Linked DNA regions of Homo sapiens: region 1 is linked to region 2. Evidence: fine-mapped expression QTL. A gene starts in region 2. The other region holds a variant in brackets. All regions are shown on one strand. Distances are from middle to middle.

Region 1 (5,385 bases), 36 kb after region 2:
TTTATAGTATGTGAGTTATATCTCAATAAAGCTGCTATTAAAAACAAACAGATACACAATAAAGGAGGCCTATGCTTTCTCCAAATCTAAGGGCTTAAATCAATATTTACCCTTTAATTTAAAGGTCAAGAGATCTTAGAAGATTATTTCACTATGGTATATATTATATACCATAAAAGGCTATAATAATAGAAAATAATATTAATAGAAAAACTTTATTAGAGTCTAGCTTACCTTTAATATAAATGCTAATCATTTAATTCAACAAATATCTTGCATTCATTGTATGATTCAATTGACACCTGAATTTTTACAGATAAGTATTAATTTATACATTCAGAAATTTCTAACTAAAACCCAGGAACCCAGGGCAGAGTTAGTGAAAACACTTAGTATTAAACTCACAAATGATAATCCTTTGCATTCATATTCTAAATAAGATTGGGGTTTAAATACTTTTAAATCATCTTCCTACTGAAACACACACATACACAGACAGAGGATGTTAAAGATCTTCCACTTTGGCAAGTCATTTAACACCTTGGGAGGCTCAATTCCCTCCTCTCTTTCTTTATACTCCACTATGTTCCCTAAAGTATTTGAAGTAGCTGAGCTTCAGCTCATTTTCTTAAAATGAAAGCAGAAATGAAAACATACATTCATCAAAAATTTGTACATGAATGTCCACAGCAGCATTATTTGTAACAGTCAAGAACTGGAAACACCCAAATGTCCATCAACTGATGAATGGATAAACACAATGTGGGATATCCATACGATGGAATCTTATTCAGTCATAAAAATGAACAAAGCACTGATACATGCTACAATATGGATGACCCTTGAAAACATTTTGCTCCAAAAAAGAAGCCAGATAGAAAGGCCACATATTATATTCCATTTATGTGAAATGTCCATAATAGGCAAAATGTATAGAGACAGAAAGTAGATCATGGTTGCTGCAGAATGGGAGGTGGGGAATGGAGTGTGAATGGAGGGTATTGGCTAAGGGGTCCAGGTTTCTTTTGGGGTCATGAAAATGTTCTAAAACTGGTCGTGGTGATGATCACACAACTTTGTGAATATATGAAAAGCCACTGAATTACACACTTTAAACAGGTACATTGTATGGCATATGAATTGCATCTTAACAAAGCTGTTTTAAAAAATGAGGGCATCTGATCAAAACCCTAGGGTCTCTTCTAGCTCCACCTATGATTCAACAGGGCTCACTGCTCACCTGAGGTTTGGAAGTCTATCTCAATAGGATTGGAGAGACTGGTTGCTGCTTCTCGCCAAAGGCTGCCCCTGACAGGAGACCAGGCTGTCACCATGCAGCGGTACAGCCCTGCGTCTGAGACCTGAGTCTGGTACATTCGATAGCGGAACTCATCCTCCTGCACTTTTTCTAAAACAACGCCATCCACCCGTGATGCATCTGTCCAATTCTCCAGCTTCACCACAGAATCCTGGTCCAGAGAGATGATGTACTTCGTTTCATTGGGACTGGAGAGGTCGCCGACAGGCTTCTCAGCCATGATGAGAACAGAGTAGCGTGGCGACTTAATATTCTTGGAAGATACTTTGCAAGTCATCTCAAATGTATTTCCGGCAGCAAAGAAAGGCTTTGGCTGCCTCGCCTTCACCACAAGCACGGAATCTGGAATGAATGACCAGAAGGATGTGATTTCCAACAAGATCAGTTAAAATAAAAATGCAACTAAAAGCAAAATAACCAAGAAACAGAAATGTATTTGCAAATTGCCACACAAAAGCACCTACGAAAATCTGGAAACTCAGAAAGAAAATCATGTGTATCTATAAGCAGGCTAAAACCACCCCATTGAAAGTAATAGTCTGAAATGAATCAGTGGGTGTCAGGAGAGAGGAAATTATGGTGAGAACTGGTTTTAAGGATTTTTAAGTCCTTAAGAAGTTTCACCAGGAAGAATCTGGGAACCCGCTATTGGTGCTCCAAAAGATGCAAGGCAGAGGACACTCCTATAAAGGTGGGAAAGACATGGCTGAACACAACACCATGACCTCCAAGCCAGGCTCCTGGCCATACCATTTGCCTCTCCTCCCCAGGGGTCTGCTAAGTGCAGGGGAAGTGCCCCTAGCTAAGCTAGCCTGCAGGGAGGAATGCAGCAAGGGAGAAATGAATTCTCCCTGTTTAATCATATGATAGTGACATTACAGAACAGATGTATTGCTAAAATGACTGTAGCGTATGTATTTGCAGATCTAATAATTTCCACTTGCTTTACACTTTAATTTCAGAAATGCTGTTTAAACATTTTGAGAGGTGTCTATGGCTACGCTAACTTTAGGTTTAAGTGGATTACTCCTTGTGTCTCTGTCAAAACAACAATGCCTATGCATGTACACATTAGAATTCATCTATTATAGTAGCACAACGTCAGGCACTTGGAAGGTGCTTAAATATTTGTTGAGTGGATGAATAAATGAATTAGATACATTCTTTTTATCCTTTAATAAGATGATTAATCCTATAATCCATCCAGTTACAAGATGAGATTTTTACGTTAGATTTTTTGGAACACTTGTTCCACCAAACCGATTAGCAGAACATGTATATTAAGAACTCTCTCCAGAACCACTGACTGCTGAGCTTCTACTGAGCCACCACATTCTTTCTTGATTTTCCTGTGAGTTCGGTCATTCATTCATCAATTTAAACATATATTTATTGACAGCCTTCCATACTGCAGGTACTGGAAACATAACGGTGAACAAATAAATACAAAAATCCCTCCCTTTATATGCCAGTGAAGGAAGACAAATGAAATAAACAAATAAAATATATGGTATGGTTATATGGTGATAAATGTTTAAGAGATAATAAGCAGCCAAGGAAGAGAAAAAGC[G/A]TGGATTTGTATTTGGAAGGAAGGTGTGTGTGCCACAACCGTAAATAGAGTGATCAGGGACATCCTCACTGAGGAGGCAACATTTTAAAAAGAACCTGAGCTGGGTGTAGTGGCTCATTCCTGTAATCTCACTGATTAGAGAGGCTGAGGCGAGAGGATTGCATGAGGCCAGGAGTTTGGGATCAACCTGGACAACATAGCAAAACCCCGTGCCTCTAAAAATAAAATTAAATAATTAGCCAGGCACAGAGCATGTGCCTATAGTCCCAGCTACTTGAGAGGCTTGAGTCCAGGAGTTTGAGGCGACAACGAGTTATGATGGTGCCACTGCACTCCAGCCTGGGTGAGAGAGCCTGGGTGAGAGAGCAAGACTGTGATTCTAAAAAAATAAAATTAAAATTAAAAATAAAATAAATAAAAAGGACCTGAAGGAGGTGAGGGAGCAAGTCCTATCTATCTTGGGAAGAGCATTCTAGACTGATGGAACAGCAGGCAGAAAGCTACAAGGCCGGAGCACACTTGGTGTATTTGAGGAGCCTGGAAGGGCAGAGTGGCTGGATGGAGTGGGTGCTGGGGAGGGTGCTAGGTGAGGCCAGAAGGTAATGTGACCAGTTGGTACAGAACATCTAAGACCACTTAGAGGACTCTGGGTTTTGCTCTGAGTGAGATGGGGAGGCTTTGAAAGTTTAGAGTGAAGGAGTTTCAGGACCTGACTTATATTTAACAGGATTGTTCCAGCTGCTGTGTGCTAGGGCAGAGCAAGGAGACGATCTGGGAGGCCAGGGATGTAATCCAGGCAAGGGTGGCGCCATAAATGGCAGAGTGTGAAAAGTAGCCAGATTCTAAGTCAATTTTAACAACGAGCAGTCAAGGATGAAGGTTTTGGGCTGAGCCACTAGAACAATGGTGCTGGAGAAAGCTGGGAGAAGAGAGCTGGCAGATGTGATGGGAAGCGTCCTTTTGAACAGAAGCTTGAGATGCCTGTTAGTCAAGTAGTGTCAAGGAGGCAATGTAATATTGAGTCTGGAGTTCTGGAAAGAGGCCTGGGGTAGACATGTAAATCTGGAGTCACTGGTTTCTAGATGGTATTTAAATTGATGAGATTAGAGACATCACCAAGAAGGTGAGGTTAAATAGAAAAGAAGTCCAAGTCCAAGGACTATGTCCAAAGACTATGTCCTGAGGTAGTCTAATGTTTCCGGGTCCAAAAAATGAACAGAAGCCAGAAAAGGAGGCTGAGAAATGGCTAATAAAGTTGGAAGAAAGCCCTGAGAAGGCAGTGTCCCACAAGCCAAGGGAAAAACCAAAGCATTCCCAGGAGGAGGGAATCACCTGCGTTAAATTCTGCTAAGTCAAAGAAAATAACTGACAATAGGATTTTCCAATATGATGATTACTGGCCATCTTACCACAAGCAGCTGAGGGGAAAGCCTGATTTGAGTAGGTACCAGAGAGAATGGAAGGAGAAAAACCAGACACACTGAGTATATATACGTCAAATATTGTTGTTATAAAAGGAAAAAGTAATAAGTAGACAAATGGGTGTGGGAAACAGAAAGACGGATGAAGAAGGAAGATCAAGACTAGCATAAAAAAGGGGGGGCGCCCGGCACGGTGGCTCATGCCTGTAATCCTAGCACTTCGGGCGACTAAGGCAGGAGGATCGTTTGAGGTCAGGAGTTCAAGACCAGCCTGGACAACACAGTGAGACCCTGTCTCTACCAAAAAAAAATAGCCAGGCATGATGATAGAGGCCTATAGTGCCTCTAGTTCCAACTACTTGGGAGGCTGAGGTGGGAGGATAACTTTAACCTACCTAGGAGGCTGAAGCTACAATAAGCCATTATCATGCCACTGCATGTCAGCCTGGGTAACAGAGCAAGACCCTGTCTCAAAAAAAAAAAAAAATTAGCTGAATGTGGTGGTGAGCACCCGCAGTCCCAACCGCTCGGGAGGCTAAGGTGGAAGGATCACTGGAGCCCAGGAGGTCAAGGCTGCAGTGAGCTACAATCACACCACTGTACTCCAGCCTGGGCAACAGAGTGAGACACTGTCTCTAAAAACAAAACAAAACTAAAACAACAAAAAATACCACAACCCTCACTCCCCACCCCCTCTTAAAAAACCCAAGGAAACCTGGATCTAACAGCACATTGACAGACCAATAGGAAAGGTCCAGAAGGGAGAGAATTACCAAAGACATAAGAGAGAGCAGCCATGGTCTAAGTAGTGAGAGGGGCTGGCCTCTGCCAGGACATATGCCACGTGACCTGGTCTCAGCCCTGGGGCAGCGTGAATGGGAATTCTCCTGATTATTTCTACTTTTAGGAGAATAGGAAGCAGGGCCAACAGCTGAGAGAGAAGCTGTGGGAGGAGGTTTGCAGAGACAGAAGGTGGTATGCAGTAATCACTTAGGAGAGTGGGGAAATAAACAGACTAAGGAAATGCAGAATAATTCCCACGCAGTGCCAAGAGCCCACTTGTCACAAGTGACCAC
Region 2 (5,385 bases):
ACTTTTGAATAGTAGCTCATATTCTTGTTGGCTGATGAGTACAAAGCTTGGCACTGACATACTAACATTAGAATCATGCTTTCAAAACACCAAAAATTCCTCGATGGTATTGACTTTCTTTAAAAATATCACTGGAATTGTCAAATTTACCACTGCAGTATTATTTGAATGAAAACGATTAGGTTGAACTGTATAAAATGGTCCATACTTGAGCACTTTTTATACCAAAAAAACAGCAGTTTCAAATAATGCTACCTTATACAAAACCTACCTCAGGAATAGCCAACATAACAAGCAGCTTCTTTCTCTTTTCACATTCAAAAACCCTATATGCTTGGAGGCTGAGATAGCTTCCATCCATACTAAGTGGAATCTTTTTTATTTTTCATGAATGCAAACTCAGTAAGACAGACAATAGCCCTTCCCCCAAACCCTGCCATATTAATGGCCATTATTTGTAGGGCAGCTAGTTTGGGTGGGGGAAATAGATCAAGCAGACAAAGCTAACTGCTAAATCCGAGAACTCATTTACCCATGACATTAATCTCATATGGCACCATTTTCTATCAGGATTGTTCAGTCCTTATATTTACTAAAAAAAAATTGGGACAAAGTGTAAATTTGCTAACCAATGTAATTGATCAATAGATCGTTATTTAAATAATTTATTTCAATTCCCCTCTATATTTGTAAGGACAAACAGCAGACTTCTAAAGCTTTTTCCAGTAACTTCCTGATTTATGTATTCTTCACATAAAAACTGTGCTTCTACACAAAATTAGTGCTTCAGATGAGTCAGAATTTAGAAGAAGTAAATGTATAACCCAGTTTAGGTAATTGTTTAAATGGGTTAAGGAAAAGCTTCCAGCTTCCCCTTTTTGAGCCTTGATTACTACTTTCCTTCCCCCAGGGCTTCTAGCCTGCTTACCAAAAAAAGAGACAGAATTTGCAATTCTATGAATTATTGCACAATGTAAACCCAGTTTCCTCCTATATACATAGCAAACATAGAATTCAAATACACAAAGCACATACACTTGAGAATCACACTCAGACAACTTAACCAAACAACAAAAACACACCAGCCCCCAAAGGATCCCACCAGTGCACCTATCCATCAACACCCGCCAAGCCAGTCTGGCAGGCATCCGTCACCCAGCAAGTGGTCCCAGTAACTTCCCCTGCAGGCCCTAGGTCTGACTCTTAACCTCACACTATCATATGTACCTAGAGACATGAGCACAATTCAACTCAATCAATGTTTATTAAGCAACCTCTTTGTGCTGAATGCTGTATTCTTTTCTTTTAATTCTTCAGCCATAGTCCTGGTCACACCAAATGCAGCTTGGTTTAGTTCCCCAATCATCCCAGCCATTCGGGTCCCTGCACTGGCTCCATCCAGTCTCTCTAAAGCAAGAGTTTTGTTTGTTTGTTTGTTTTTTTAGATGGAATCTCACTCTGTCACCCAGGCTGGAGTGCAGTGGCTCAATCTTGGCTCACTGCAACCTCCACCTCCCAGGTTCAAGCGATTCTCCCACCTCAGCCTCCCAAGTAGCTAGGGCCACAGGTATGTGCCACCATGCCCAGCTATAAAGCAAGAGTTCTTAACTGGGTCCACATGTAGGATTAAAGGGTCCATAAACTAGGGTGAAAAATAATCTTACATCTTTATTTTCATTTTTGCCTCTAATGGAAATTTAGTATTTTCTTCAGTTATGTATGTAGACAACCACAGATATCTTCATATCACATTACAACTACTTAAGATATATTGAAATGTTATTTATACTCATCATTACTTTGAAGTTTGGTGGTTAAAAGACCTACCTGTAGATTTTGTTATGTAATGCATAAATAAGAAGCAAATAAATTACTGCATTATAATTTATTTAAAATATTTTGATACCTGTATTTCAATGTGACTGATTTCCTCTGTAATTCTATGCATTTTATTTTATGCATTTTAAACATTATTCTGAGATGGAGTCTATTCTCTTTACCAGATGTTAATGAAAACTGTAGCATAAAAAGTACCTGCTATCTGGTTTGAAACTATTCCATTACCTGCTCAACTCATCTGACTCTCCCTTCTACCTCCAAATTTTCTCTTCTTCCATCCTATTCAAACATAGATAAATGCCCCTAGATCAGGCAAGCCCCTCTGCATGGCCCTCAGTAGAGCCAAGTGAATCTTCCTGTTCATTTCTCAGTCTCTCAGTAGTCAATTTCCACTTCCACTCGCAGGTGAAATCTAGAACCTTCTTTTAGCATAGTCTAAAACTACTAAGTACTTTCATAACCTTTCTTTCCATCCAGTCATATCTGCAAGGCATAGTTATCCCATCAAGCCTTAATATCAGGCAAACCTTAAGGTCTCCTCTCAGTTTGGGACACAAAGCTTTTTTACTGTCTCTTGGGATGATCGGCCCAGGAAGATGAGTAAAGCCAGGGCCAAGCAAAACTGACAGATCTGGCAACACACACAAATGTTAAAACCAATGGAATCTTGTGCATGGGACTCAACCAAGCATTGTGACTCCCTGGAACTCAAGGATGTCTAGGTAAGCCAAGAACTGTCATTAGTAAGTCAAAAATTATTGCTAACATCAGAAATATATGGCATAGTTGTTCCTGTAGAGACCAAATTGTCCTGTTCCATCACTCAGCACCCTGAGTTGATGAACTCCTGTGACAAGAGAAACATAAAGGATTATGAAACTTACTCAGAAGGAGAAAGAAAGATGCCACATATGAGATGCCTGCCATTTGGGCCAGCACAGTCCTTTTTCGTCCCAATAGTGTCACTAACATTCAGAGGTTGAGTGACAAATGCTGTGCTCTCACTGCAAAGTAAAGAGGAAGCAAAAGTGTGGTTTTCAGCCCACTGAGAAATAGAGATGTCTTGTGAAAAGCAAAACTGGTTACATTATGTAGCTCTTTACTAATCACTCAAATTTGGGAGTAAAAAAGTTATCTTTGTGGTTAAGTAAACAGATATCGATAAAACTAAGAAAAGATGGGTCTCAACCTGGCTCACAGTATGTGTCATTTGGTAATGATGAGAGAATTTAGGTAAACTGAATAAATAAAAAAGGCACCAGCAATGTTGTCTTCTTGGCCCTTCCTTCTCCTCCTCTCTTGAGAGAGGAAATGACTGAGAAATGGGAGAAGGCCCCTGAAAAACATGAACTTGGGGCGACATGAGGTGGTGCTGAAGGTTACAGGCTCTAGAGTCAGGCTGCCTGGGTTTGCATGCAGATTCTAGTTTTAGTAACTGTGCAATCTTAGAAAACTTAATTAACTTTTCCTAACCCTCATTGCTAAAATGAGGATACTAATAGTAGGTACCCTGTAAGATTACTGTGAATGCCAAATGAGCTAATTTTTTAATTATTTTTTTATTTCTTTTTTTTTGTATTTTACTTTTTTTTATTATTATTATACTTTAAGTTCTAGGGTACATGTGCACAACGTGCAAATTTGTTACATATGTATACATGTGCCATGTTGGTGTGCTGCACCCATTAACTCGTCATTTACATTAGGTATATCTCCTAATGCTTTCCCTCCCCCTTCCCCCGACCCTATGACAGGCCCCGGTGTGTGATGTTCCCCTTCCTGTGTCCAAGTGTTCTCACTGTTCAATTCCCACCTATGAGTGAGAACATGCAGTGTTTGGTTTTTTGTTCTTGAGATAGTTTGCTGAGAATGATAGTTTCAAGCTAATTTATTTAAAGCACTTAGAACAATATCTGGTACATAGTAACTGCTCAATGAATATTAGCTACCATCATCACCATCATGAGACATTTAAGTAAATCTTCATCTGCCCTGTGAAACTGCCTTTGCAAAAATTGTAACAGTGAGAAAGTTATGACAGTGAAAGGGATCTGACCTCACCATCTCCATCTTGCTTCTAACTTCCAAGCTGCCCTTGTTAATTCCTGGTTGTAGGCCAAACTAACTTTGGGAGGAATTTAGCTTAGTTTAATTTTGAAACAAAGAGGATAACAGCCCTTTCTGGAAACAAACCCCCTTCTTGCCTGGGGAGCAGACTTCCCTAGTAAGACTAACAAATTAGCCACAACATTAGAAATTATGGTTTAGGAGTCATGCAGCCAGAGGCCACACAATTCCAACCTCCCCAACTGTTCCTAGGGATAACATCACTATTGTAAAACCTAAATTGGTGCTCAAGGTATTTTTCAGACCCTGCATCCTGATGCACCAGCTGACACCATCCAGGCTGGTGATCTGGTTCCACCAGTTCTTTGATCCCACTTAGGAACGGAAGACTGCAAGAACCCCCTTTGATCCCCTGTGATTTCATCTCCTACCTGACCAATCAGCACTCCCCACTCCCTGGCCTGCCAAATTATCCTTACTAACTCCAGTCTCTGAATTTCCGGGGAGACTGATTTGAGTAATAAAACTCTGGTTTCCCATTTAGCTGGTTCTGTGTGAATTAAACTCTTTCTCTATTGCAATTCTCCTGTCTTGATAAGTCTGTTCTATCTGGGCAGCAGGCAAGGAGAAACCTGTTGGGCAGTTACGCTAATGGGCAGTTACACCGATGTGAACCCAGGTATCAAGGATGGCAGAGGAGTATCTAAATGCAACAGTTGGCCCTGAACCTAGACTAATACTACGCTAGTGCTAGAGTTCTCAGGAAGCTTCCACTTAAATCAGATAATCACAATGCAATGTGTCAACAATCAGTGGGGCACCTATAGGGGGTGGGGAAAATTGGTAGGCAGGAGGGAAGGTCAAGATGGATTGGGCTGGGCCAGGTGAGTCAATGAGTCATCTAGAGAGGCAGGGGGCCAAGGTACAGTTGGGGAAAAACCGTGTGGCATGAATAGTAACACACAGGCTGTACTATCTTGTTGGAATGAAGTTTGAGGTTGTTGTGAAAGAAGGATCTATACAGGTAGGATGGGCAGATCTTAGTGGGCTTCGTGTGCCAAGCCTAAGAGCTTGGCTTTTATTAATACCTCAAAGAAGAGGGAAGCTATGAAGATTTTTAGTGGTAGTATAGCCTGGTTGGATTTTCCGTTTTTCCTTTTAAGTTGAATTCTGTATGTGTGCATTGCTAACAGGTTGAAAGGTGAAGAAGGGAGACAAGGCTAGAAGCAAGAAGGTCAGTTACAAGGTTTTTGTAGTTGTCTCTATGAGCAATAATAAGGGCCTGAAGTAGGGCATTTAAAATAAAGACAGAGGCCGGGCGCAGTGGCTCATGCCTGTAATCCCAGCACTTTAGGTGGCAGAAGCGGGCGGATCACGAGGTCAGGAGATCGAGACCATCCTGGCTAACATGGTGAAGCCCCGTCTCTACTAAAAATACAAAAAAATAGCTGGGTGTGGTGGTGGGCGCCTGTAGTCCCA

What was found.
Region 1: its variant is fine-mapped to the expression of CD101 in whole blood (INTERVAL, PIP 0.93).

Annotation. Positions count from the first base shown.
Region 1 is chr1:116,963,186-116,968,570 of GRCh38, reverse strand. PTGFRN (prostaglandin F2 receptor inhibitor) reads right to left here. Exons shown (of 9, transcript NM_020440.4): 6 at 1,241-1,660. Among named protein-coding and RNA genes, the nearest start is that of CD101, 36 kb to the left of the region's middle. The variant G/A (reference allele first, on the strand shown) is at 2,889.
Region 2 is chr1:116,999,199-117,004,583 of GRCh38, reverse strand. It overlaps CD101 (CD101 molecule), which reads right to left and starts at 2,824. Exons shown (of 10, transcript NM_001256106.3): 1 at 2,724-2,824. The coding sequence starts at 2,766.